7 linked regions of the Homo sapiens genome follow. The protein of the gene in region 7 purifies or fractionates together with the protein of the main gene of each other region. This does not show direct contact. Each region holds a gene or a part of one and is shown on either strand. Other genes may lie near its edges. The genes, in order: ADGRF1, CLCN3, DNAJC11, ESYT2, TMTC2, TNFRSF10A and PCDHB3.

Evidence for each region.
Region 1: the proteins of PCDHB3 (region 7) and ADGRF1 purify together in Homo sapiens (affinity purification with mass spectrometry; one large-scale study listed by BioGRID and IntAct). This does not show direct contact.
Region 2: the proteins of PCDHB3 (region 7) and CLCN3 purify together in Homo sapiens (affinity purification with mass spectrometry; one large-scale study listed by BioGRID and IntAct). This does not show direct contact.
Region 3: the proteins of PCDHB3 (region 7) and DNAJC11 purify together in Homo sapiens (affinity purification with mass spectrometry; one large-scale study listed by BioGRID and IntAct). This does not show direct contact.
Region 4: the proteins of PCDHB3 (region 7) and ESYT2 purify together in Homo sapiens (affinity purification with mass spectrometry; one large-scale study listed by BioGRID and IntAct). This does not show direct contact.
Region 5: the proteins of PCDHB3 (region 7) and TMTC2 purify together in Homo sapiens (affinity purification with mass spectrometry; one large-scale study listed by BioGRID and IntAct). This does not show direct contact.
Region 6: the proteins of PCDHB3 (region 7) and TNFRSF10A purify together in Homo sapiens (affinity purification with mass spectrometry; one large-scale study listed by BioGRID and IntAct). This does not show direct contact.

What each region holds. Positions count from the first base shown.
Region 1 is NC_000006.12:47,014,833-47,018,332, forward strand, and holds part of ADGRF1 (adhesion G-protein coupled receptor F1 isoform 1 precursor), read right to left. Parts: intron 1,937-3,500; coding exon 1,785-1,936; intron 13-1,784; coding exon 1-12. UniProt on the Homo sapiens protein: Adhesion G-protein coupled receptor (aGPCR) for N-docosahexaenoylethanolamine (synaptamide), an omega-3 fatty acid lipid highly enriched in the brain.
Region 2 is NC_000004.12:169,619,362-169,623,377, reverse strand, and holds the start of CLCN3 (H(+)/Cl(-) exchange transporter 3), read right to left. Parts: upstream 2,801-4,016; 5' UTR 2,315-2,800; intron 1-2,314.
Region 3 is NC_000001.11:6,642,817-6,646,316, forward strand, and holds part of DNAJC11 (dnaJ homolog subfamily C member 11), read right to left. Parts: intron 3,163-3,500; coding exon 2,973-3,162; intron 2,311-2,972; coding exon 2,225-2,310; intron 1,859-2,224; coding exon 1,742-1,858; intron 1-1,741.
Region 4 is NC_000007.14:158,735,510-158,739,009, reverse strand, and holds part of ESYT2 (extended synaptotagmin-2), read left to right. Parts: intron 1-1,830; coding exon 1,831-1,962; intron 1,963-3,401; coding exon 3,402-3,500. UniProt on the Homo sapiens protein: Tethers the endoplasmic reticulum to the cell membrane and promotes the formation of appositions between the endoplasmic reticulum and the cell membrane. Binds glycerophospholipids in a barrel-like domain and may play a role in cellular lipid transport.
Region 5 is NC_000012.12:82,850,906-82,854,405, reverse strand, and holds part of TMTC2 (protein O-mannosyl-transferase TMTC2 isoform 1 precursor), read right to left. Parts: intron 1-3,500. UniProt on the Homo sapiens protein: Transfers mannosyl residues to the hydroxyl group of serine or threonine residues.
Region 6 is NC_000008.11:23,189,952-23,194,102, forward strand, and holds the end of TNFRSF10A (tumor necrosis factor receptor superfamily member 10A), read right to left. Parts: intron 2,063-4,151; coding exon 1,743-2,062; 3' UTR 501-1,742; downstream 1-500. UniProt on the Homo sapiens protein: Receptor for the cytotoxic ligand TNFSF10/TRAIL. The adapter molecule FADD recruits caspase-8 to the activated receptor.
Region 7 is NC_000005.10:141,099,003-141,103,272, reverse strand, and holds the start of PCDHB3 (protocadherin beta-3 precursor), read right to left. Parts: upstream 2,801-4,270; 5' UTR 2,624-2,800; coding exon 233-2,623; 3' UTR 1-232. UniProt on the Homo sapiens protein: Potential calcium-dependent cell-adhesion protein. May be involved in the establishment and maintenance of specific neuronal connections in the brain.

The sequences.
Region 1 (3,500 bases), on a different chromosome or scaffold from region 7:
CATTACACTGGGCTGGAAACAAAAGAAAACAACAAAGAAAAATGATCCTAGAATATCCTGGCACTCTATATAAACCATGTAGTCATGTTCAAATGTTTTAGAACTCATTTTTGGAGATGAAATCCAGGCAAAATTCAGAAGTAAGAGAAGTTTGTCTTTGATGTCCTGCTTCATCCCTCTCAACATTCCTTACTCATTCCTGATGCCTTACCCTCCCTGAGGCTGACTCCTCCTTCCAGGTGTCCGATCTGTGCCAACAATATCACTTTTAATGGGCTATCAACTAGTAAGTATTAGGTGATAATAAGGAAAGATGTGATTACTCTCAGGAAATATTTTTACTCTTTAAAGGAACATTAGAAAGCCAGACAATTTTCCAGACACTATAGAATAAAGCAGTAATGTTATGGTTAAAAGATGGGCAGTTGCTATTTGTGGGTAGCACTTCCTACCTGTACCTCTTTAAGCATAGCTCACATTGCAACCAGTTGCTACTTTTGCTGCTAGCCTTTAATAATGCATTCTTATCATGATTGGAACTAGGAGATGGAAACATTAACTGGAAGATCCACAAGGGCTATGATTTTTTTTTTTTCAGATGGGGTTGCACTCTTGTTGCCCAGGCTGGAGTGCAGTGGTGCAATCTTTGCTCACTGCAACCTCTACCTCCCAGGCTCAAGTGATTCACCTGCCTCAGCCTCCCTAGTACCTGGGAGTACAGGTGCACACCACGATGCCTGGCTATTTATTTATTTATTTATTTATTTATTTTTGTAACAGAGTCTCGCTCTGTCACCCAGGCTGGAGTTAAGTGGAGTGATCTCGGCTCACTGCAACCTCCACCTCCTGGGTTCAAGTGATTCCCCTGCCTTGGCCTCTCGAGTAGCTGGGATTACAGGTGTGTGCCACCACGCCTGGCTAATTTTTTTTTTTTTTTGTATTTTTAGTAGAGGCGGGATTTCACCATGTTGGCCAGGCTGGTCTCAAACTTCTGATCTCAGGCAATCTGCCCTCTTTGGCCTCCCAAAGTTTTGGGATTACAGGCTTTAGCCACTGCACTGGGCCTGGCTAATTTTTGTATTTTTAGTAGAGTCGGGGTTTCACCACGTTGGCCAAGCTGATCTTGAACTCTTGACCTAAAGTCATCTGCCCACTCTGGCCTCCCAAAGTGCTAGGATTATAGACGTGAGCCACTGCACCCAGCCAGAGCTAAGATTTTTGTTTGTTTTCACCATTGCTGCATTTTAAGTGTCTAGACACTTTGGATTCTCAGTAAATATTTATAGAATAAATGTTGTTGAAAGAGAGTGGTACAAATTTTGGTAGGAAAGGCGTAAGATTGAATGTAAAAGAAAAAGATAAATATCTGAAGAAAAACAGTTTGTGTGTGTGTGTGCGTGTCTGTCTGTCTGTCTTTATATGTGTTAAAGACATAATTTCTTGGATTGTGACTTAGGAATATTGTCAGCCTCAGGGCTCTTTCAACATGTGTGCCAGTCAACTATTGCTGAGCCCTTTCCATCACAGCCTGCAGTGAAGTCAGTTCTCCACACTGTTTACACTAAGAGGTACAGATCAGATTTCCAATTAGCAAGAATTTGAAATAGTCAGTTGAAGCTAAGTTTCATCTTGGTGCTGGGGGAAACAGCTGCCTGTTTGTGCTGAAAGGCAGTTAGAGAACAATTCGTTATTCAAACGTCTCAAATCTACTTCCTGAGGACACAAATGAACTACTAATTAAAGGACTCTCTTAACCTAAGCAGAGGATGGGAATCCAGCATTACCTTTTCCGAACACTCTGAAAGAGCCGTCTTCTAATGGAAACAGCTTGTGAAGGGCTGTCTTAGCCTTCTCGGCAACATGTTCAATGGCTGACAGCAGTTCAGATGCACTGCTGGAGCCAACAACTTCATACCCAGCAACGATGCTTCCATTTCTGCAGTGATTATGGGGAAAGAGAAATGAGATTCACTACTTATTTATTCATTCACTCCCGGCCTATGCTGTGTGTACATGCCATGGGGTCCATAGGAATAAAGTAAACAGAGCTTACATTCTAGTGGATAAGGCAAGGCAAATAAAAAAACAAGTATCCACCAAAAATACATATATATATGATATATATATATGTATAAATACATCTGTATATATACAGATATAATTATGGGGCCCCACATTAAATAAAGCTGGTTATGGAAGGCTTTTTTGTGCTGTGGGTCTTTGAAGCTGAGGCCTGAGGCCAGCTATGCAAAGAAGAAAAGGCCAGCTATGCAAAGAACACTGGTGTGGAATGTCAGCACAAGTAAAGGTCCTAAGGCGGGAAAATGCCTGTGAGTTTGACAAGCTTAAATACTAGGATGATTGAAATTCAGCAGCAAGGGAGCAATAGCAGGAGATGATATTGGAGTGGTACCAGGAGTCAGATCTCATAGGACATTAGAGTTGCGATTTCATTCTTTATTAAAAAGTTTTCTTCTTTATTAAAAGGTAGTGGCATCATAAGATTTATCTTTTTAAGACCGTAAAGGCTGCTGTGTAGAAAACAGATGGAAGGGAAGCAAGCAAGGTACAGGGAACTCAGTTAGGAAAGAGCTGGTGGTGGCTTGAACTAGCTGGGTAGCTATGCATGTGGTCAAATTCAGGTTTTATTTGGAGCCAGAGCCATAGAACTTACTAATGGAGAAGATTTGGGATGTGAAAGAAAGAAATCAGTCAATAATAACTCCAAGGAATGGAAAAGCAAGTTTTTGTATATTCTTACCATGGAGTACTACTGGACTACAAAAAGGAAGGAACCACTGATAGAAAAATGAGGATGAATCTCAATGACATTATGCTGAGTGAAAGACGCCGAACATGCAAAAAAAAAAAAAAACTGGATTATTCTATTTATGTGAAGTTCTGGAATAGACTAAACTAACCTGTGATGATAAAAATCATACAAGTGGTTGCTTCTGGCGTGAGGGGATGGCATGGAAAGAGGCTGGAAAGCAACACAAGAGAACTTTTGGGGTTATGGGAATGTTCCATCTTGACAGGAAGGGACTTGCACAAGCGTTTTTCAAAGCTGATAGAGTCATACACAAAGTTTGAGCACATAACTGTGTGCAAGTTATACCTCAATAAAAGAAATTATAGCACAGGATGGCTCCAGGATTGGGTCTCTGCAAGTGGAAGGACAGCATTGCTGTAATGGAAATAGGGAAGACAGTGGGAAAAATAAGTTATAGGTTAGGAAGGGGAGAGTCAGAGGATTCCCAGTTTGGACACATGACATTTGACATCCCAGCTGGAAAACCAAGTGGAGACTGTCAAGTAGGCCGTTGGTTATTTGAGTCTGGAGTTCAGGGGAGTGCCCGAGCTCAAGTAATAAATTTAGAATCCATCAGCATACAGATGTGTTTGAAGACATGAAAGCACATGAGATCAATACATTAAGTCAATCCTGCAATAACTCATGAGATAAGCAGTGTATCATTCCCATTTTATAGATAAGAGAA
Region 2 (4,016 bases), on a different chromosome or scaffold from region 7:
ATAAAAACAGACAAAAAAACCCAAATTCCTCAGGGGCAGCGGGTATAAATGCTAGAGGCTTTCAAGAGGACAACGGAATAAACACACATACAAATATAACACTCAGATTATAACAAGGAAGAAAGATAAAACAATAAACCAATAAAAAGTTGCTGTGGAAGACAGAAACTTTGAAAACTAAATAGTCTTCATGATTTTAAAAGACAGAAACTGTTCGATTATTTCTCACAAGAAATAGCAAGAAATATATTTATTTAACTTGGTTCCAGTCAAAGTTGCAGATCAAATCTCTCTGGATTTCAACAATGAAAGTGAGGCAGTGGGGTTCAATCTCCATATTAAACTTCACTGAAGATTTATCTTTAAGAACCAAAATGAATCACAGCTACAATGTTTATGTACAGATGTGAATGTGCATATTTAAAAAATTAAAATGTTTATTAGAGTAGTAAGATTATGAGTATTCCTTTTAAAAACACTGTTTCCCAGACTCTCTGTAATTTTACATTGCTTTTATAATTGAACCTACAAGCCACGTCCCTCCTTGTTTTTCTCTAGCATTTTGACTATTCTAAACTACACTATGGTGCAGCAGAGAGCAGGAACTCTGAAATCATACTCCCAGGCTTCAGTCTCAGTTCTGACAGTTACTGTAGGGCAAGTTAGTTAAATTTTCTGTGCCTCAGTTTCTACGAATGTAAAACGGGATTAGTGAAAGTACCTACTTCGTGGGGTTAGTGTGAAAATTGAGATAATTCACAAAAATTACTTGGAAAAGAGCCTGAAAACACAGAATGCATTCAACAAATATTAACACTTATTATAAAATATTATACATTTTAGATCACTGCTGACAAGTTTGACTACCAAACTAAGTTGGAAGTTCTACAAAACAGCGATAGTGGCCAAACCCCACAGGATACTGCTTTGATATAAGACCCACCACAGAGATCAAATCTGGCTTCCTGAGCCGTCTGAAAATTATGACCAACATGTCACAACAGGAAATGGAAAGCCTACCACTAACATGACCTGGAAAATAGCCAATTTACTAACACAAACCCACAACATCAACAAATCTGTTCCCCTGAACCACATCTATCCAAAAGTAGTTTAAATATTTACATTCTTAATGAGCTATGTATGACTGATAACACATACTGAAGTACAATTTCCAAGTAAAAATGTAGGTACTATACATTCATATTGACTTCTTAAAATAATGTGACTCATCATTCAAGTAAAGCAGCAAAGTTTTCGAGGTGCTGAGGGGAGTAAGGGGTGGGAAGGGTATGCAATCTGTGATGAATTCTGCCAACAGTGGCTGTCTGTATTAACCAGAGGCCATATACGCATATTCAAGTTGAGAAAATATCTGTAGGTCACACACATGGTTTTTAAAGCCATATTATAGAACAAGACACTGAATAGCAGCAGCACCTTTTAAGATGAAAGTCAACAATTTATACACAAGCACTTTAACTCCCATATGTACTCCTGAACTGAACAAATATTATTTTGTAGTGACTCACAAAGGGACGCAGTTATTTCCATACCGACCTCATAAAAAAAAATCTTCTAAATTAACTCTTTAAAGATGAAAGTAAAAGCATTTCTGGAAAGATTCAACAATTATACAAGCCACAATGATGCTGCAGTAACTGAACTGCATAGCTCCAAAAGTTTACGTTTGTAGAACTGAACTTTTGAATTATATATCTGTGTAAAAGGTATGGTCGCTGTTGATTCAATTCCATGAACAGGAATTTCTTTCTAAAGGAAACAGAAATCTCAGTTTCTAATATGCACAATGCATATGTAATTATCTTCTATATGCTCCGCAGTTTTAAAATGCCATACAAACAAAGCATACCACATGCAAAGTCAATTTCTGAGATTCTAAGGCAGTTTCTGGTCAAGTTTAAGATCAAACCACAAATATATATACACAAAAAATATTTTACATACATATATATCTAAAGATAGAAAAACTGAATATTATTTTTAAATTGGGGAAAATTTAGCGAAAGTAAAACCCACTCCTCTAAGTTTAAAGTTAATCTTCTCCTGGAACCCACTTCCATTTTATTCAGAGGTCCTTCGACGGTTCCTGAAGCAGATGTGTGAAATTTTAAAGAATGTCTGAGGGTATATACCTAATCAGGATGGGTTAGCATCCCAATTCACGATGTACCTTTCAACATTATGTAGGTACATTGTAAGAGAAACCAAGATGAGCGCTGTGGCCTCACAGTTGACCCAAAATCTGTGAACAGGAGAGCTGACAACTCTTCGCTCATACAATGCAACTCACCTCGCAGCTCAGAGACATAGCAAAATCGGTGGCTGTTTTTTGCGCTGCCTTTGGATTCTGCATCTGTTTCAAACCTAGAACCTAGCTACCCTCGGAGCTCCACCGAAGAAAGCCTGACACAGCGAAAACTATCGCGATTTAAAAGATACCTGACGTTTTCTACCGCAGAGGTTACGAAAATTTTGCCCGGTGGGACTTTTATTGTCCTCCTTCAAACACGGGAGCAACATGAAGTTAAATCCTCTCGCTCTGGAGATCCCTAGAGTCAACCTGCTTCTGCCCAAAATTAAAAATAAAAATCTCCAATCTCACTTCCCCCTTAAGACTAAAACTGAATCCATGCTCTAACTCGGGAGTAAAGTAGGATGGCTTTCAACCCACCACACCCTCCTTGCTCATTATTCCGGGTCACGGGCGAACTAGAACACTGGGAAAGGGGCTGCAGGTTCCGGACCGGACCGGCCCTGACCCACGGAAGGGGAAGAGAAGCGGCAGGAGTCAGGAGCCCGAAAGGTACGCCCCAGCGTCGACGCGTGACGTCACTACGTTGACGTGAACGGCCGTTCAGCGTCCGGCCGTCCCAACACCTCCTCCTCCGGCCACTCGCTGAGTAGCGTCGGCGCCTATTGGGCGGCGTGGGAACGGTGGGCGGGCCGGGACTGGGTCTCGAGGAGGAGGAGGGGTGCGAGGTGCCTGGCTCTGAGGGCCGCCGGGGCTGTGAAGCCTGTCATTAGCGATTAGCTCACGTCAGTCACTCACGCATCCCTGTTTGCCCTGCTGCTGACCTCGCGCGAGGCGGCCACCTTGTGGGAGATGTTTTCGTGAGGCAACAGACGCTGGCCGTTCCCAGCGTCACGCAGAGTTCGGATCCACTCTAGCGAGAGACCACAGCGTCCGGGAGCAGCTTGTGAAACTCTGGCGAGCGTCAGCCTTGAAAATAAAAAGTATTGGCAGCCGTCGACGAGCACAGGTTCCTAAAACTTAGATCGAAGAGAAGTACCAGCCTTCAAAAATAAACCAGCACCAAAAGCCCCCTGTGCTTATAGGTGACGTGCGGGCTGGGAGTGCAGTGGTGTCACCTCGCCTTGTATGTCATCGCCGGTTGTGTGCCTAACATACATACAAAAAGGATAACTCGAATTTAGCCATCACGCATTTTCAAAAATACTGCTTGGAAATTGAATGTTTGGAGAAAAGATATAATCTGGGGTTTCTACACGGTCTGAATTGGGTTCATTTCCGTTTAGCAAACATTTATTGAGCTCCCAGCGTGGGTCACAGAATTCAGTAAACCTGATCCCGTGTTCAAGGTGCTATATTCCGATGCAGGGCAGGGCGATGCAGTGAAAGAATGGTGGCCACAGCAGTAGCATGCTAATAGCCTGGTGGGCAGGTACAGGTTTTGCATTTCTTTGGCGAGATCACTTTTGAGTGTCTCCACTGGGTGGCAGAATTAAGACCCGTGAACGTTTAATATCTCCTGTATATTTAGTATATTATGAATATATACTGATTAATGAATATTAAGTGCGTGTTGTATATCTTGTGCCTCATGAATATTAAATATGACCTGGTCTTGCCAGCCTTTTCTATTTTTACATATACGTGCTCCACCGACTGTTTTGCAGGCTAGGAACACGTGAGTTTTGTTCTCCTATTTCTTCTAGGGCAGCATTGAATATTCTCAAAGACAGTTCTGGGC
Region 3 (3,500 bases), on a different chromosome or scaffold from region 7:
GTAGAGATTAGGAAGAGAAAGCTGGACAAATATATGAGCTGGAGATTGAGGGGGTGGTCCAAGCTGGCACTTGCAACGTGAGTCCTCAGGGCATGAGAGCCATGAGGCTGGACATGACTGCTTGGGAGTGAGTCGAGAGAGAAGGGCTGTGCCCTGCAGTGGTGCCTCCATTTAGGGGTTTGGGAGACAGCAGCCATCTGGTACGGAAAGCCAGAGCAGGGCGTGGTATCCTGGAAACTCAGGGCAGAGAGGCTGTAAGGGCAGGAGGGAACGGCCACCGCGACAGCAGGTGCAGAGACCAAATGAGATGAAGAAGAATCACCCTCTGATCTGCCACAGGAGGGAGGGTGCCCCACTGATGAGGTGAGAAAGGCTGATTCTGGAGAGGGCTGGTTTTGCTGGAGAGGCCTGACTGGAGCACGTTTAGAAAGAAAGAAGACGGATGCAAGCGAAAACAGACATTTTTTTTTTTTTTTTTGAGTGGAGTCTCGCTCTGATGCCCAGGCTGGAGTGCAGTGGCGCCATCTCGACTCACTGCAAGCTCTGCCTCCCGGGTTCACACCATTCTCCTGCCTCAGCCTCCCAAGTAGCAGAGACTACAGGCGCCCGCCACCACGCCCGGTTAATTTTTTGTATTTTTAGTAGAGACGGGGTTTCACCGTGTTAGCCAGGATGGTCTCAATCTCCTGACCTCGTGATCTGCCCGCCTTGGCCTCCCAAAGTGCTGGGATTACAGGTGTGAGCCACAGTGCCCGGCCAAAACCAGACAACTCTTTTGAGGAACTAAGGAGAGGACAGTGACTAGACTCAGGTGGAGCAAGGGTATGTGTGCCAATGGAAACCCCTGGTGAGAGGGATGAACCGATATGGCAGCTGCTACTGGAGATGCTGTGCCCGGGGGATAGCTGCCAGGCCAGTGACTCCAGGAGGACTGGGCTGCTAGGATGCATCCTGTGACATCAGGCGAGGCTGCTGGAGCTCAGACGTACACCTCACTCACTCGGTGTTGGAACTATGCACTGCTTGACATTTGCTTACTCAGCAAAGACACAAGCAACTGTATTTTTTTTTTGAGATGGAGTCTCACTCTGTCACCCGGGCTGGAGTGCAATGGAGCGATCCTGGCTCACTGCAAGCTCCGCCTCCTGGGTTCAAGCGATTCTCCTGCCTCAGCCTCCCGAGTACCTGGGACTACAGGCACCCGCCACCACCCCTGGCTAATTTTTTGTATTTTTAGTAGAGATGGGGTTTCACCATGTTAGCCAGGATGGTCTCGATCTCCTGACCTCGTGATCCACGGCACCTGGCTGAATTTTTTTTTTTATATTTTTTGAGACGGAGTCTCACTGTCCTCCAGGCTGGAGTGCAGTGGCACGATCTCCATCTCAGCTCACTGCAACCTCCGCCTTCGGGTTCAAGCAATTCTCCTGCCTCGGCCTCCCAAATAGCTGGGATTATAGGCGTGTGCCACCACGTCTGGCTAATTTTTGTATTTTCAGTAGAGATGGGGTTTCACCACGTTGGCCAGGCTGGTCTCAAACTCCTGACCTCAGGCGATCCGGCCGCCTTGGCCTCCTAAAGTGCTGGGATTACAGGCATAAGCCACTGCACCTAGCCAAGCAACTGTGTCTTTAAGAACAAAATTACAATGCAAAGGCTATTTCAGCCTTAACTTGGGTAAAGCCTGGTTGAGTGAAGGTGACAGGCATTCCTTGACCCGAAAGGCCTAAGTTCAACTTACTTGACTTTGAGAGAAACACCCTGTGGAACTCCAACGCTGACAGCTGCACCCAAAACGCTGTGCCTGGAGATCTTCCTCTCAGCTCCGTACTCCACCACCGTCCCAAAGAAGCCTGCTCTGCAGGGAGAGAACGCGGTCTGTGCCTGTGCCCCTCATTCATCACTTCAGGGGCAGCTGTCATTTGAGAAGAGGCCAGGTACCTTCCCTTCCCTCCCTCCAGCCTCCTCGACCCCCAGGGAGCAGATTCATGACAGAAGAAAGTTGGGACACCCATGGTCTAGTTCTTCCACAACACTCTCTAAGCTCCTCAAGGGCTGGGACTGTAGTGTTAAATCCCCCACAGCCTCAAAATAGGAAGCTCTCCAAAAATGTCACACACACGTAGATATTCACACGAGCAAGGTGTCTTACACCAACTGGTTCCACTGTGAAGACCCGCATGCAGTACCAGTGTGCTTCCATTTTAGCCAGGCCAGGACTTACTTGAGGGATCCTTTCACACGAGTCTGATCGTCATCTTGGAATTTGTGCTGATAGCTGATCAGTGCAAAGGAGTGAGGGATTCCCAGCTGGGGAGACAGAGGGTGCAAGGATGCGTGGCTAGGGCGTGTGACTCTGTGGGGAGATGGGTATCTGCCCTCCCACTAGCTCTGGGCATCTGCTGCACACAGGCCTTTAAGGCAGGGGTCACGGTCTGGCAGCCGCAGTGAGTGCACCATGATTTATTAGCAGCCAGTAATTAAAAAGTGGGAGACTTCACTGAAAACCCAGTTTTCTAGCTTCTCACAAGAAATAAAAAACTCTGGTGACACTGAGCCTATGCTCCTAGGTGGCAGCGGCTGGTGAGAGCCAAGGAGCAGTGGCCCGTGTGGGGCTTCTCATGTACCAGCCCTGGTGTGGCCACAGGGGCGTCCGAGGGCATGATTCTGCTATGGGGCTTCATCTGCCCGCCCCCAATTCCGTGGGTGGCTCCCACCAGACATTAAGATGTTGTTCTGCTTTAAGATGATCCAACAAAGCTGCCCCAGGCGCCTGAAGGCAACTGCATTTCATACTCGAAGGTTCCACCAGGTCACTCGAGTGTGAGCACCGAGAGCCTGCCCCTCAGGGCCCTGTATGGGCTTAGACTTAGTGGTGATCAGGACGCAGGATTTAAGGGGAGCACTGAGTGCTTGGGAGGAGGGGTCCTCCCAGAGCTCTGTCTGCAGGAGATGATGGCTGCTCGGCTCACCTGCAGGGCCACAGTGAAGTGGCTGGTTTTAGTGTCTCGGACGATGCTAGTGTTCATGGCTGACTGGATACCCCATCGCCACTGCAGGTAGCCCACGGTGTTCTTGTCTAGGTTCCGAGCTAGGACAGTGGTCAGGCCGGGTCGGATTCCACGGGATGAAAACTGCAGAGCACAGTTTGTTGTCACAAAGCTGGAGAGACACAGAGACAGAATAGGTCCTGGATAGCACCTGCTCTCAGCTGTTCTGTTACTTCCTCTCTGCCTGGCTAAGACCTCACTTACTGTCACGTCTATGCATCCCTGGGCCAGCTCCCAGTAAAAAAAAAAGCAGGAGGTCAGGCCTCTATCCACACAGAGGGGGAGGGTCCTAGCCAGAATCTTCCTAGTAACCTCCCGACTCCCCTCAGCCGCCCTAACTTTAGCTACAACCAAATAGGCACCTGACTGTCTGCATTCCTATGCCAGCAGATGCAACCCCACTCAAGTTAGAATGGATGGGGGCCGAGGAGTGCAAGTCAGAATCACCAA
Region 4 (3,500 bases), on a different chromosome or scaffold from region 7:
TCCCACGCGCCCGCTGCTGTGCTGCTGAGTGTGGATGCTGGATAGGATGATGTAGACACCGCCTTTAGGATTTCCAAACATCCATTTATGTTTCATTTAGAAAGGACAAAGCAATTAAACCTCTAGAGACGGTGCTCGTAAAGGGTGTCACCACTGCGTATGTCACATGACAACGTTTTGGTCACCGAAGTACAACGGTCCCCTAAGATCATACTGTATTTTTACTGTACCTTTTATGTGTTTAAATACACAAATATGGCTTGGCATGGTGGCTCACGCCTGTAATCCCAGCACTTTGGGAGGCTGAGGTGGGCAGATCACCTGAGGTCTGGAGTTCGAGACCAGCCTGACCAAAATGGAGAAACCCTGTCTCTACTAAAAATACAAACTAGCCACGTGTGGTGGTGCATGCCTGTAATCCCAGCTACTAGGGAGGCTGATGCAGGAGAATCACTTGAACCCAGGAGGCAGAGGTTGCTGTGAGCCAAGATCGTGCCATTGCACTCCAGCCTGGGCAACAAGAGCGAAACTTTGTCTCAAAAAGAAAAAAAAATACACAAATATGTCACAATTGCCTACAGTATTCAGCACAGTAGCATACTGTACAAATGTGTAGCCTAGAGCAGGAAGAGTGTGTGTGTGTGTGTGTGTGTGTGTGTGTGTGTCTGTGTGTGTGTGTGTATTTTTTTTTTTTTTTGGAGACAGAGTTTTACTTTGTCCCCCAGGCTGGAGTGCAGTGGCACAATCTCATCTTACTGCAACTTCCGCTTCTTGGGTTCAAGCAATTCTCCTGCCTCAGCCACCCGAGTAGGTGGGATTACAGGCGTGCACTACCTCGTCCGACTAACTTGTATTTTTAGTAGACACGGGGTTTCACCATGTTGGCCAGGCCTCCTGAGTAGCTGGGACTATAGGTGGAAGCCACCAGGCCTGGCTAATTTTTAATTTTTTTATGGAGACGCTGGTCTCTAATTCCTGGCCTCCCAAAGCACTGGGATTATAGACTTGAGCCACCATGACTGGCCTAATCAGGAAGAATTTATTTTAACTTGTTTGTTATATTAATAAGTATAAAGTCAGGTGACTGTTGCATTAATTGCATTTGTTAACAATGATACTGTGGGCTTACGAACTATTTTCCTTTTATGCAATTTTCTCTGTCCTATTAGTGGTTTAAAATATGATATAAAAATTTGGTGCTTATAAATAGCTGTTGGAAACATAGGAAAATAAAATTAGCACCATTTAGAAAGATGATAAAAATGTAGAGTTCAGTACATCACTCTTGAGAAGTTCATATATTCTTGCCACTTAGATAATGATCGTGGGGGATACTGTTGTAGAGGAGTCTAGCAAAACAATCCCTCCTAGACTTTGTGGTCAGTCAGCAAGCGAAGAATGTGGGGGCCTGTGCAGCTGGGCACCTGACCGCGTTTGCTGCAAAGGAGCAGCCCCCTTCTGGAGGGGTAGGCACTGTGGGGTGGGGGCCTGGCTTTCTTGGCTGTGAGAGAGAAAATGGCAGAAGCATTATGGAAAGACAACCGTCACTCTGTTACAAGCAGAGACCAAGGACTTGGAACGTCCTCCAAACTCTGGGCTTGAGAAATGAAGGCCGAAGTCGCTGCTGAGAAAGCCACTAAGAAAGGAGTTTGGGAGATGCCACCAGGCAGCCGTCGGGGGAGGCAAAAGCGCCTCACGCATTCTGTTCCTTGTTGCTTCTCGGTTTGTAGATAAACATGAAATCAAAGCTTGATAAAGCATATCTGAATGTGCTGCTCATTCTCTTTTTCTCGGTCCTAATACCTCGTCTTATCTGGTTTGTGTTGTAAGAAACCTCATTGCCTTCTCTGAAGACGGCTCTGACCCCTATGTCCGCATGTATTTATTACCAGACAAGAGGCGGTCAGGAAGGAGGAAAACACACGTGTCAAAGAAAACATTAAATCCAGTGTTTGATCAAAGGTACGGTATTTTATCCAGCTGAGGATAGACTGCCCGGTTGAAGTGACGGATTAAGAAGGCCCTAAATGGTGCCTTTGAGTGGCCAAAGCACATAAATCAGCTGTTGAGAAGTTCAATCAGAAACCAACTTTTAGCAAACATACTTCTCAAAACAAATAAGCATTTTGACCTTCATGTAGAAGCTCTAAATACAGTAAATTCAAGTTACAACCCTGTGGACATGTAGACTAGTGATTAAATAAAGATCAGGTTACTGATGGCCCTGAAGAACTCATTTTTGGGGGTTATATCTGTTGACACTTAACTATGTTATCAATTAAAACTGAGAATTTAAGGATACATATATTTTTAATTTTATTTTTAAATAACAGTAAGCCCCAAACATCTTACCGTATGACATATTGGAAAAACAACTGTATTTCCAAAAATAAAAAACATAATGAAAAGAATGGTATTATTGTTCAGCATTTTTGCTCATCTCTTTAGTGGTCTGGCTCAAGAGGGGCTGGAGCCTGCTTCTGTGGTCAGGGTGATTTGGTGACCTCCTAGGAGGGTCTCAGAGACACCCCCAGGGGTCATTGGCCCCCACTTTTAAAGAGCTGCTAATCTGTACCATTTTGGTATCTTAGGTGATTGTCCCCTAGTGCTTCAAAACCCACCCTTGTTTTGGGAAATGATAATAATACAGTTGTATGGTGTCGCTATCTGCTAATTCAGTTTACGTTTCATCTTTAAACATCCTCCTCATTCATTGTACTTTCATACAAGTAGCTTTATGTAAAACACCCATCAGAAACTGGCAGGCGTGCATCAGCCCGATGAGGTTGTGCAGGGTGCTCCTACCCATCCGAGGCATTTAAGCGTCTGGAGACTCCACTTGCCCCCCAGCACGGTGGCCTGGGGCAGGCACCCGCAGCCCGGAGGAGAGACGCCCTGCAGGCACTTTAGTGCAGCGTCTGGCTGAGCATCGGGAGTGCTTTGGAGGCCTTCTCCCTCCTGCGAAGCTGCAAGCACATACTTTTTTTTATTGGAGATGGTGGGAATAGGGCCTGAAGACTAAACCAGACTGAGTGGAAAGCCTGAGTGAGTGGGCTGCTCTGGAATTGCTGTTTTGTCAACATTATCCCACATTTTAATCCCCTGGAAGAGTCAGACATGTTGAGAGACGCTCCTCACCCACCCGTGAGTGAGCCAGGGACCTTGGGACCCAGACATCTATGGGATGCCAGAGCCTTCTTTTATGTGTGGGAAATGAAAAAAATGTTGGTTTTTGAGTCTTCCTGAAATGCCAGATTAAAACATTAGGTAGAAGAACTCAGTTTTATAATAAAAAACAAACATGACATTTGGAATGATCTCATGAGCAGAAATGCCATTTTTAGTTATAAGAAAATACAGCAGAATGATGGATAAAGTAAGGCTCTCGTTTCCTATTTCAGCTTTGATTTCAGTGTTTCGTTACCAGAAGTGCAGAGGAGAACGCTCGACGTTGCCGTGAAGAACAGTGGCGGCTTCCTGTCCAAAGACAAAGGGCTCCT
Region 5 (3,500 bases), on a different chromosome or scaffold from region 7:
GGCCCACAAGGTGTCCTTAGGAATAGAAATCATGCAGAGAGCAGAGCAGTAAGATTGAGGGAAACTCAGTCCCTGTTACAAAAGACCATAGTGACCCTGGGCTAACTACCTCCTATTTCTTCAGTATGAGAAATAAGTTGCTACCTTTTCTAAACTGATATTTTGAGTGTTAACTAGTAACAGTTGAACCCAGTCATGAGCAAAATCCTTTATTAAAAGAAGACCTATTACAGAACAGTAGATTGATTTTCCATTTTGATTTTGATTTTTACAAGTCTCCATGTATTGACTGTGTATTAAATAAATTTCCATATAAATTGGCTTTTAAAATATTAGAACCAGATGTTATTCTGGATCTATTAAATTAAAACACCCTGCTATGACATTCATCAAGAGTCTACCCAGAAGTAATTGCTTAAGACTTGATGGGTTATAATTAAAATTTAAAAGAAATATGAAAAAAAAAAACAACTGCCAAACTGCCAAAGAGTGTTGCCAGAAAGAGCTTATTTCAAGCAATAGAGAATGAAACCCAGGCTTCAACTAGACATTAACCTAGATATTGATGTAAATATCTCTAATATCAATCCAGAAACCCTCATACCATCAAGGCCAGGGCAGTGGAGAGCTCAAAGGCAAACCATTCTGGGATAAGGCTTTGTCAAGGCAGTGAGAAAAACTGTGAGGCACGCTTTGTTTAGAGTAATACTCCATCCTTTCTGTGGCAGATCCCAAAGAATGAAGAATCATCTTTTCCAAACCTGGATTTCTACATGCTATTAGTTCAATGCCATGACCAACTATGTAAAGGCTTTTGATAAAAAATTCACCCATTAAAAAATCTGTTCAAAGCTGCTGGAATTTATCTTTATAGCAATAAATCTAGCAGCCTACAGCAGCCACGAGATATACTACATCCAAAGACCCTCCACCAAAAAGGGTTTCAACACAAAGAACACAATTAACACATCTCATAATTTTACCGTGAGAAAAAAACCTTTGAGGCCGGGCATGGTGGCTCATGCCTGTAATCCCAGCACTTTGGAAGTCTGACGCAAGTGGATCACCTGTGGTCAGGAGTTTGAGACCAGCCTGACCAACATGGTGAAACCCCATCTCTACTAAAAATACAAAAATTAGGCAGGCATGGTGGCAGGCACCTATAATCCCAGCTATTCAAGAGCCTGAGGCAGGAGAATTGCTTGAACCCTCGAGGTGGAGGTTGCAGTGAGCCGAGATCGCGCCACTGCACTCCTGCCTTGGCAATAGAGTGAGACTCCGTCTCAAAAAAAAAAAGAAAAAAAACTTTGAAACACAGCCCTAAATTTACATGGAAAAAAAGACAAACATAGTTAATAAAACAAAAATGAAGGAGCAAAAGAGTATCTCATCCATGTGAAAAACATACTATACTAAGGGAGACATTAGTATGATAAAATTCTCCAATGTGTGTTATCTGCTTAAGTAGGATTTTATTTAACCAATGAATATTATGATAAAAAATATGGAAGACTAAAATGTACTGGAATTTAATATACAAGTCATGTCACACATGCAGGTCAGTGATAAGGGATGCATTACACCACCTCAACATCCTATTAAGAAAGATACAGACCAACAGGGCCTTAATAGAATCTGAGTAATCCTCCAGCAAAATAAGAAAAAGGGAGTCATTCAAACCTAAGCATAATAGATTTTGATTCATTTGCATTTCCTTCTATGAGTCCAAAATAGAAATAGTAAAACCTCTTCTGCTGTTTCACAGCTAATGAAACACCTTGACTCAAAACAAAATTTCATGCTGATATAATTTTTGAGGTTGCTTCCGTGAAATGGTGTTGAAAATTCAGAAAGGCACTAAGGAATCAGGATATTTTCCACTCTAGGAAAGGTGGAGGAACTCAGAGCAGCAGATATGGGAAAAAAACAATTGTTGGCAGAATTCCCTAGAGAACACAGGACTGAGAAACTGTCTTTTTGAAGCAAAAAGATAGTCTCTGGCCGGGCGCGGTGGCTCACGCCTGTAATCACAGCACTTTGGGAGGCCGAGGACGATGGATCACGAGGTCAGGAGATCGAGACCATCCTGGCTAACACAGTAAAACCCTGTCTCTACTAAAAACACACACACACAAAATTAGCCGGGCGTGGTGGCGGGCGCTTGTAGTTCCAGCTACTCGGGAGGCTGAGGCAGGAGAATGGTGTGAACCCGGGAGGCGGAGCTTGCACTGAGCTGAGATCCCACCACTGCACTCCAGCCTGGGCGACAGAGCGAGACTCCATCTCCAAAAAAAAAAAAAAAAAGATAGTTTCTGAAGTCTTCAAGGAAGTCTTAGCCTGTGTCCAGGTTTGTTCATTTGTGGCTCTTTGTTTTTGTTGCCTTATGATTTTTCCTTTAGAAAATGTTGACAAAGGCCAACACTATTGTAAAACTGATGAATGATGTGACACTGCCACCCAAACTGTCCTTGTGTGTCTTTCTCTCACAGCTTTTTTTTTTTTGTCTCGTGACCTTTTCAGTCATAAGCACCCATGTAAGTAATGACCAGTAGTCCTTCAGAGCAGGAATGACGCTTAGATTCTTCCAACATCAAATGGCGCTGTTCTGACATGCTTTCAATTGTTCTACTTGAAAGTAAGCAAAGGCCAAACTTAAATTAAAAAAAATAAATAAATAACAGTAGGTTGAAATGTTCTTTGCAAGAAAGATAAGAAAAAAGACTGGCCTTTGTTAACCTGCCCTGCTTCAGTGCTGCCCAGTGCAATGCAGCAGTTAAGAAAATCCATTGTGTAGCCAACTGGATACACTAAAGTTGTGAGACAGCAGACACAGTTATTTCACCTCTCTGTACCTTAGTTTCCTCAACTGTAAACTAGAGAGCACTATACTTGCCTTATAGGATCATTGTGAAGAGTAAATGATTACATGCAATATAATGTGAGTATGTAACATAGGTAACATATGTTAGCAATTTTTTGTTGTTGTTTTGGAGACAGAGTCTCACTCTGTCGCCCAGGCTGGAGTGCAGTGGCATGATCCCTCCACCTTCTGGGTTCAAGCGATTCTCCTGCCTCAGCCTCCCCAGTAGCTGGGATTACAGGTGCCCACCACCACACCTGGCTAATTTTTGTATTTTTAGTAGAGATGGGGTTTCACCATGTTGGCCAGACTGGTCTCGAACTCCTGACCTCAGGTGATCTGCCTGCCTCGGCCTCCCAAAGTGCTGGGATTACAGGCGTGAGTCACAGCACCTGGTTACATGTTAGCTATTATTATCATCATCAACACCAAACAACTGATGCTAGCCATCAATGCAAACACAATGTTGTTTTCTTTTTTTTGAGATGGAGTCTCGCTCTGTCACTCAGGCTGGAGTGCAGAGGTGCAATTTCAGCTCACTGCAACCTCTGCCTCCCGGGTTCAAGTGATTCTCCTGCCTCAACCTCCTGAGTAGCTGGGACTACAGGAGCACGCCACCACGCCCAGCTAATTTTTGTAT
Region 6 (4,151 bases), on a different chromosome or scaffold from region 7:
GAGTCTCGCTCTGTCACCCAGGCTGGAGTGCAGTGGCACGATCTCGGCTCACTGCAAGCTCAGCCTCCCAGGTTCACGCCATTCTGCTGCCTCGGCCTCCCGAGTAGCTGGGACTACAGGCACCCACCACCACGCCCGGCTAATTTTTTGTATTTTTAGTAGAGACGGGGTTTCACCGTGTTAACCAGGATGGTCTTGATCTCCTGACCCTGTGATCCACCCACCTCGGCCTCCCAAAGTGCTGGGATTACAGGCGTGAGCCACCATGCCCGGCCACACGTAAGTGTTTTGATTAGTAAATCCAGGTAGAAGTTGTATGTGTGAACTGTAAATAATGTTGACAACTCTTAAGAATTGTCTGTTTTAATTAAACCAAGAAACTTAAACTAGCTTTCTATTTACTAAAGATTATCTCAGATCACGTGACCTTGAAAAACATTTAGATGGGCTCCAGTTTTTCTAAGAAAATGCTCCATTTATGGAAGCAATTCTTTTCTTTCTTTTAACCAAATCTTTGCATAGGTACCAAATAACACATTTGTTTAGGATGAGAGCTGCCCACTGCCCCCGCCAAAAAAAAGTACTTTTATATACAAAAGTCCAAATTTCCAAAGGTATATGTACTTTAATTGTGACTTGAACTCAAGGTAAATAAATTAAATAATTAATAAATTAACCTTAGCTTACTGGACGGCCACCATCTTATATGCTGTTCCCTTGACTGAAATGTTGTGGGGTAAATGACTATATATGAAATGGGACTTATTGGAGGAATTAATGCATCTGATAATGGAGGTTGAGAAGTTCCACAACAGGCCATCTGCACAGCAGAGACCCTGAAATGCTGGAAGCAGGACTTAATCCAGCCCAAAAACCTAAGACCCAGGGAAGCCGATGGTGTAATTCTTAGTTCAAGGCCAAAATCCTTAGATCCTTCGGGAGGCCACTGGTGTATGCCCTGGAGTCCAAGGGCTAGAAATCCTAGACTCTGATGTCCACAGGCAGAAGAGTGTCCCAGCTCCAGGAGATCAGATGGATTTGCTTTTCCTTTTTTTTTTGTTTTCTTCTATCTTGCTCCCCAGTCTGTCGGACGGTGCCCCCCCAAATTAAGGGTAGGTCTTTTCCACTCAGTCCACCCGATCGCATGCCAATCCCCTCTGGAAACACCCTCGAAGACATGCCCAGAAATAATGTCCCAGAAATAATGCCTTACCAGTGTTCTAGGTGTTCCTTAATCCATTCAAATTAACACCTCCAATTGACCACCATGATAAGGAAACACACGGAGGCCAGCTCAGGGGAGAACCAGATTTTCCTTTGGCATGTGAGCCTCAGTCGGGCAATAATTCTTTCAAGTTTATTTTATTTTATCTTGAGACAGAGTCTTGCTCTGTGTCCCAGGCTGGAGTGCAGTGGTGCAATCTCAGCTCACTGCCTCGTGGGTTCAAGTGATTCTCCTGCCTCAGCCTCCCGAGTAGCCGAGAATATATGCACACACCATCACATCCAGTTAATTTTTGTATTTTTTTGTAAAGACGGCATTTCACGATGTTGGTCAGGCTGGTCTTGAACTTCTGACCTCAAGTGATCCACCCGCCTCAGCCTCCCAAAGTGCTGGGATTACAGGCATGAGCCACTACACCTGGCTAAGAATTTACTTTGTATACATGTTAAAAAAAAAAAAAACCTAATATGTATTAACTCCTAACACCTAAGAGGAAACCTCTGGTAAAAAGAGTCTTTCACTCCAAGGACACGGCAGAGCCTGTGCCATCTTCTAAGTAGATGAACTTTCCAGAGTCCACCAAGAGGTCCTGAATCTTCTCTCTTGCATGTCTCTCTTCCATCCTCTCCAAGGCATCCAGCAGGGTGTGGATCGAGGCGTTCCGTCCAGTTTTGTTGACCCATTTCATCAGCATTGCATACAAGGCATCCCCTGGGCCTGCTGTACCAGCTCTGACCACATCGATCTCATTTTTCGTGAGGTCCAGCTGCCTCATGAGCTGGTCCCAGGAGTCAAAGGGCACGATGTTTGCAAACTTGTCAAAGAACAGCATCAGAGCTGGGTGGAGAAAGCCACAGAGACAGCCAGATGAGTTGGGACTCAGTTCAGAAGGGGCAGAGGATCCCACATCAGGCCCAGAACCCAAGGAGAGAACCTGGAGAGCCCCCTGCATGGGCAAACCTGTTGCTCCATTGCCCACCCACCTCCCATCCACAGAGAGCCCACCCACACTGCCTGGCCTCTGTGGCCCCCAAGGCGCTGACGGGCGTCAAGGTCACCAGAGAATCTGCCCTCAGAGAGGGCTGAGAACCCACCTGGGGAGGATGGATTGACCCTACGGAGGCAGAAAGCAAAGTGGGTGAGAGCCCGAGGGAGGGAGGGAGAGTGGCTGCAGCGGGAGCTCAGAGGATGCGGGCTGCCTGGGCTGCGCTTGTCATGGGAGCATGTCCCAGGGTGGCCACTTCTGCATCTGTGGAAAGTGCAGGGTCTGGGGCAGGGGACCTCTGCCCTCCCTGAGGCTGGGGCAGAGCTAGGTGGGGGCAAGCAGGCCCTGACCAAGAAGCAAACCTGAAGACAGAGCAAACCTGCCCAGATCTCAGGACTACCAGGGATTGAATGAAATGAGATGTGTGTGCAAAGCACTGCACACCACCATCCACAGGGATAGAAGGGGCCAGGAGTACCAAGCTATGTTTTCTAACAGCCTCATTTAAAGAACATAAAAAGAAAAAAGTGACATTCATTTTAATGTGTGGTACTGAATATGTGTAAAATATAATTTAATATGCAATGAGTATACAAAAACTGAAACTGACCCAATTGTCCCATAGAAAGGTTTTTTTGATAAACAGAAATTGACCCTTCTGGTCCTTAACGACTGGAAACTTAACATTTGTTTTATCTGAGTTACTTCCTCAGGAAAGACCTGCAAGCATCTCAAAAAAAGTAGCAAAGAACTGAAACTCACCAGATCACTACATCCAGACCATGATGGGATGTGGGACCCCTCATTCATCTTGATTGTTTCCTTGCCCCATTCTAGCTCCTACTTTCTTACACATTGTTACATTTCTTGCCTCCTATATAAACCCTTAGTTTTAGTTGGTCAGGGAGATACAGTTGAGACTGAGCTCCCATCTCTTCCACTGCAGCACCCTATTAAAGCCTTCTTGGCAATACTCATCATCTCAGTGACTGGCTTTCTGTGCAGCGAGCAGCGGGACCTAGACCAAACCCCTGAGGTTTTGGTAACAGGTTTTGGTTCCCTGGCTGGGAAAGTGTTGCTCATGGCTCTGCTGCCATGGGCCAGGAGACTCAGAAGCCCTCCCAAGCAGTTGCCCCGCTAACTTTGGCTGGAGGTGAGTTTCAGTCTCTCTCAGGTCCCACTGCAGCCGGCCCCAACCACATTCCTGATTACTTCCGAAGAACTGCCTTTGAAATTTGACATTTGCATCCAGACAGGTGATTGTCCTTTGTGGGCCCAGACAGCAGGATCTGCTCTTCTCAGTTTGAGAAATTTTTAAAGGAATTTCCATTTGCAGGTTGAACAGGCCCAAGTGACTGTGAGAGGGAAGCACTCTGCCTTTCAGTCTGGACACTCTTGGAGGCTTGTTTGTAATTGTGTGTTGTTTCAGGGCAAGTGAGTGTCTTTTGTGGGTACCAGGCAGCACGACTGGCTCCTCTCAATTTGAGAAATTTGAAAGCAATTTTTGTTGGCAGGTTGATCAAACCTAACCAATGGAGAGAGGAAGCACCCTGCCTGTTTCAGTCTGGACACTCTTGGAGCTTGTTTGTTGCTGCAGCAGTTGTATTATGTTTTGGTGATTATTTCTATGTGTTTGCTAGAGTCATGGGAAATTGGAATTCAGTAAACTTGGTATTCTTTTGTAATACTGTTTGGCTCCAATATTGCTTGGAAACTGAAGTTTGCTGCTGAATGAGAAAGTAGGATGGAGTTCCTGTATCCAGGCTTTTATGTTGCTGTTCTAAGCAGCATTGGGCCTGATTAGTTGGTTCTAGGTGGTGTTCTCTGCGATGCTGTTTGGAGTCTGCAGAGGTTTGGCCTTTAAAAATCAAACTGCCATGGAAACTGCTTTACCTAAAATTTGGGTTCACAACCTTCACTGAATTATCTATTGGAGCTAAC
Region 7 (4,270 bases):
AAAATGTTCTATCGACTAAGGATTCTCGATTGAAATACAAAACATTCAGAGCCACACAACTACTTTCCAGTACTGTTAATGAAACCTAAGCCATCCCTGGATTTGATATTTTGCTCTATTCTTGCTACTTGCCTTGAACCAGACCAAAAAAGACCTCTCCAATGGACAAAGCAGTAAAAAAGGACTTTCCACAGATTAACTAAGACGAGGCTCAGTAGATCCTTATTAACACTTAACTGAATTCAAAGCTCTTCCTGAAACTGGGATTTGCCTCGCTAACCCTCTCTGCACCCTGAGCAACGAAGTTGGGGATAATTGGCTTCAGGAACTTGAACTCATTTGTCCCGGAGCCTCCAGTCAGACACACCTCGTACTGGTAGCTCTGGGACAGGGTCCCGGTGCCGCTCACGTCCACCATCTGCCCTGGAAAGGGGCCCTCGGGCACCGAGCAGCGACCCACCGAGGCCGCCCTGCTCCTCCTGCACAGCCGCACCGCCACGAACAGGAGCACCGAAAAGAGGAAGAGCGAAGACACCGAGGCCAATGCCACCACCAGGTAGACGGTGAGCAAGTCGGCCTGGGCCTGGGCCGGTGCCGCCTCCGGGAGAGGCAGGTAGGGCTGGGAGAAGCCGTCCACCAGGAGCACATGCAGCGTGGCGGTGGCCGAGCGCGGAGGCTCGCCATTGTCCTTGACCAGCACCACCAGCCTGTGCTTGGCCGCGTCGCGCTCGCTCAGCAGCCTGGCGGTGCGCACTTCGCCATTGTGCGCCCACACGCCGAACAGCCCGGGCTCCGTGGCCTTGAGCAGCTGGTACGACAGCCAGGCGTTCTGGCCCGAGTCGCCGTCCACCGCCACCACCTTGGTCACCAGGTAGCCCGGCTCAGCCGCCCGGGGCACCAGCTCGGTGCAGGGCGCGGAGCCGTTCTGCAGCGGGTACAGCACGAAGGGCGAGTTGTCGTTGGCGTCCAGCACCAGCACGCGCACCAGCGCCTCGCTGCTCAAAGCCGGGGAGCCACGGTCTGTGGCGCCCACGCGGAACTCGAACGCCTGCAGGGCCTCGTAGTCCAGCGACCTGAGGGCAAACAGGTGGCCGTTGTCCGCGTTGATGGAGACCAGGGAAGAGAGGGGCAGGTGCGGGTCCTGGGGCGGCAGCAGCGAGTAGGTTACCTGGGCGTTGGTGCCTGAGTCTCTGTCTGTGGCGCTGACACTGCCGATGTGCAGGGCGGGGCTGTTGTTCTCGCGGACGAACAGGGTGTAGGAGATTTGGGTGAAGGCGGGGGCGTTGTCATTGACGTCGGAGACCAGCACGGTTATGTTGTACTTGGTTTTCAGCCTGGGTGTCCCCAGGTCAGTGATAGTGATGGTAATGTTGTACTCGGATCTGGTCTCTCTGTCCAGCGCGCCTTCTGACACTAGGGTGTAAAAATTCTCTACAGATGGTTTCAGGAAGAAGGGGAGATTGTTCTCAATGGAACACATCACTCTTCCGTTGTCTCCAGAGTCTAGATCAGAAACACTGAAAACAGCCAGTACAGTCTCTCCCGAGTTCTCAGGAATAGGGCTGTTTACTGAAGACAAGGTCAGTTCCGGTGGGTTGTCGTTGACATCAACCACCTGGACTATGACTGTAGACTTTCCGGATAGGCCTCCGCCATCCTTGGCCTCGATGTCGACTTCATAACTATTAATCGCTTCAAAATTCAAATATTTGACCAGTTGCATATCACCAGTAATTGGATTTAGCTGAAAAGTTTTGCGAATTTCTTCAGAAGCATGAAAAAATGCATATGATATTGTCCCAAAACTTCCTGTATCTAAGTCAGAAGCCGAGACAGTGACAATGACAGAGTTAACGGGGGTATTCTCTAGAACTGCAACCTCATAGAGCGGCTGTGCAAATTCTGGTGCATTGTCGTTTATATCTAAGACCTGGATGTTTATCTGGGCTGTCCCAGACCGAGGGGGAGAGCCGCCGTCCAGCGCGGTGAGCGTTAAGCTGAGTTCCGGCTGCTCCTCCGGATCGAGCGCTTTATCCAGTACTAGTTCCGGGTACTTCCTTCCGTCCCTACGACTGCGAGTGAGTACGTGGAAGTGGGAATTCGGAGTGATAGTGTAGTTTTGGAGGCTGTTTCTTCCCACATCCAAGTCCTCAGCATTTCCCAAAGGAATTACTGTTCCTGGCAGAGTGCTTTCTAGGATTTTCAGATGCATTTCATTTTCAAAGAATACCGGAGAATGGTCATTTACATCTATGATACGGAGCTCGTTTGTAACGAATTGCAAAGGGTTTTGCAGTAATATCTGAAAATGTAGTATGCATGGTTCTGTGGGGCCGCATAGCTCCTCCCGGTCCAATTTCTCATTCAGGAGCAAATCACCTGTCTGATGACTGAGCTGAAAATGCTGTTTGTTCCCTTTGGACACAACTTGGGCCCCCCTCGCGGCCAGTTCCTCTACCCTTAGTCCCAGATCCTTTGCTAGGTTGGCTATTAAAAAGCCCTTCTCTTTTTCCTCAGCCACAGAATAGCGTCTTGACTCGGACCCAGCCAGAGACCCTCCCAGAAAAACAAAGAGAAGCAAGACTTGCCTTTGTCTAAGAAATCGCTCTCCTCCCGCCTCCATTGCACTTTCCGTCACGCTCTTCCAGGGAATGTCGCCAAGCTGAACCTCAGACAGAGCTGGGAAACAGTCTTTTGCCCCACAACCTTTGTAGACGGCCTAGTGAATAAGCCTTTCCAGAGGCTCAGACTTGCTGGCTCAAAAATCTGCCTGGGCTCTCAACCGCTGGTTTACCACACTGGATCCGTGCGTCACCGAGCATGCACAATGCCTGTGGTTTAATTCGCCTTCTTAGTCAACAGCGCCACCATGCGTTCGCTTGCAGTTACAAAATCTTGGAGAAGGTGTTTTTATTTTGCTTTATCGATTATTCTTATCAACCCTAGTTGACGCTACTGGAGGAGTTTCTCATGTTATATGAATTAAATAAATGCAATCTAGGGAAATAAAATGCACTTTTATCTACGAGCAGCGATTCTTCCTGGTAGAGTCCTCATTTACACGATTTAACGGAAGTGTACACATACTAGTTTACCCCTCCCCTTTTGTAATAATTACACACAAACTTCAAAAGATTTTTGCTCTAGATGATAGCATGCTTCACTATCCTATTTATGTTTTTCTTTTTTTCCTAAACTTTGTGAAATGAGCCCGAATTGCATATACCAGAAAAACACAAGGAAAAGACACCTCCTGCAAGGTGGTAAAAAAGAAAATATATCATGTCAGAGGTGGATCCAGAGGACTACAAATACCTAATTTCTTCCAGATTATCATGCTCAAGGAACACTTAAAGTGCTTTCTCTTCTTATTTCAGAGCAAATTTACAATTATTCATTTCATCTGTATTAGTTTATTTCCACAGATAATTGTTGAGTTTGTAGAAGTTAGGCAAGTGGTGGTAACAAGACAATGTCTGTATATCTTACAACAATTTTCCATCTAGTGGGTGTACAGTCTTTAAACAGATGTTTAAACAGTGTGAAAAGTGCTACATAGAAAAGGTACTGAGTGCACTGAAAGTATGCAATACGGGGACCTAACTTAATGGAGAGTGATTAAGAAAGTTTCCCCCAAGGTGCACCATTTAATCTGAAACATGAAATAGGAGAAGTGTGCCAGGCTAAGACTGTAGAATGTGTGAAGGCCCTGAGAGAGCAAAGCATAGCTATTAATAGATAATGAATGAAGTACAGTGAATACAAAACTTAATGTCTCAAGAGTAAGTGGAAAGGAAGGCTGAAAAGGTAAACCAAGGCCAAATAATGGGCGCTTGGATTTTATTATTCTAAGAACAAAAGGAAGCCATTGCAAGGTTGTTGGTACAGAAATAAAACAGTGCAAATATGTGTTCAATGTAGCCGCTTTTGTACTTCTACACAATTATCAAGAATGTTTGCTCTTAATACTAGTGATACTAAAAATAACAGCAATTTCACTTTTATGTCTTTATATTGAGTATAACTGCAAGCTATTCAAATACCTGCTATCATTTGGGTAGAAGAAAAGAAACTTTGTGACTCATCCAAAATCCTACAGGTAATGAGTTGGTTGATCAGAGACTTTTGATACCAACACAGCGCTCTACACCATTGCTAATCTCAAAACAAGACCTTCAAAGTTAATATTAAAATTTTAATAGGATAGCTCATTCAAATGTATGTAAAAATGATATAAAAATATAAAGATAGACTGAGTAACATTAAGAAT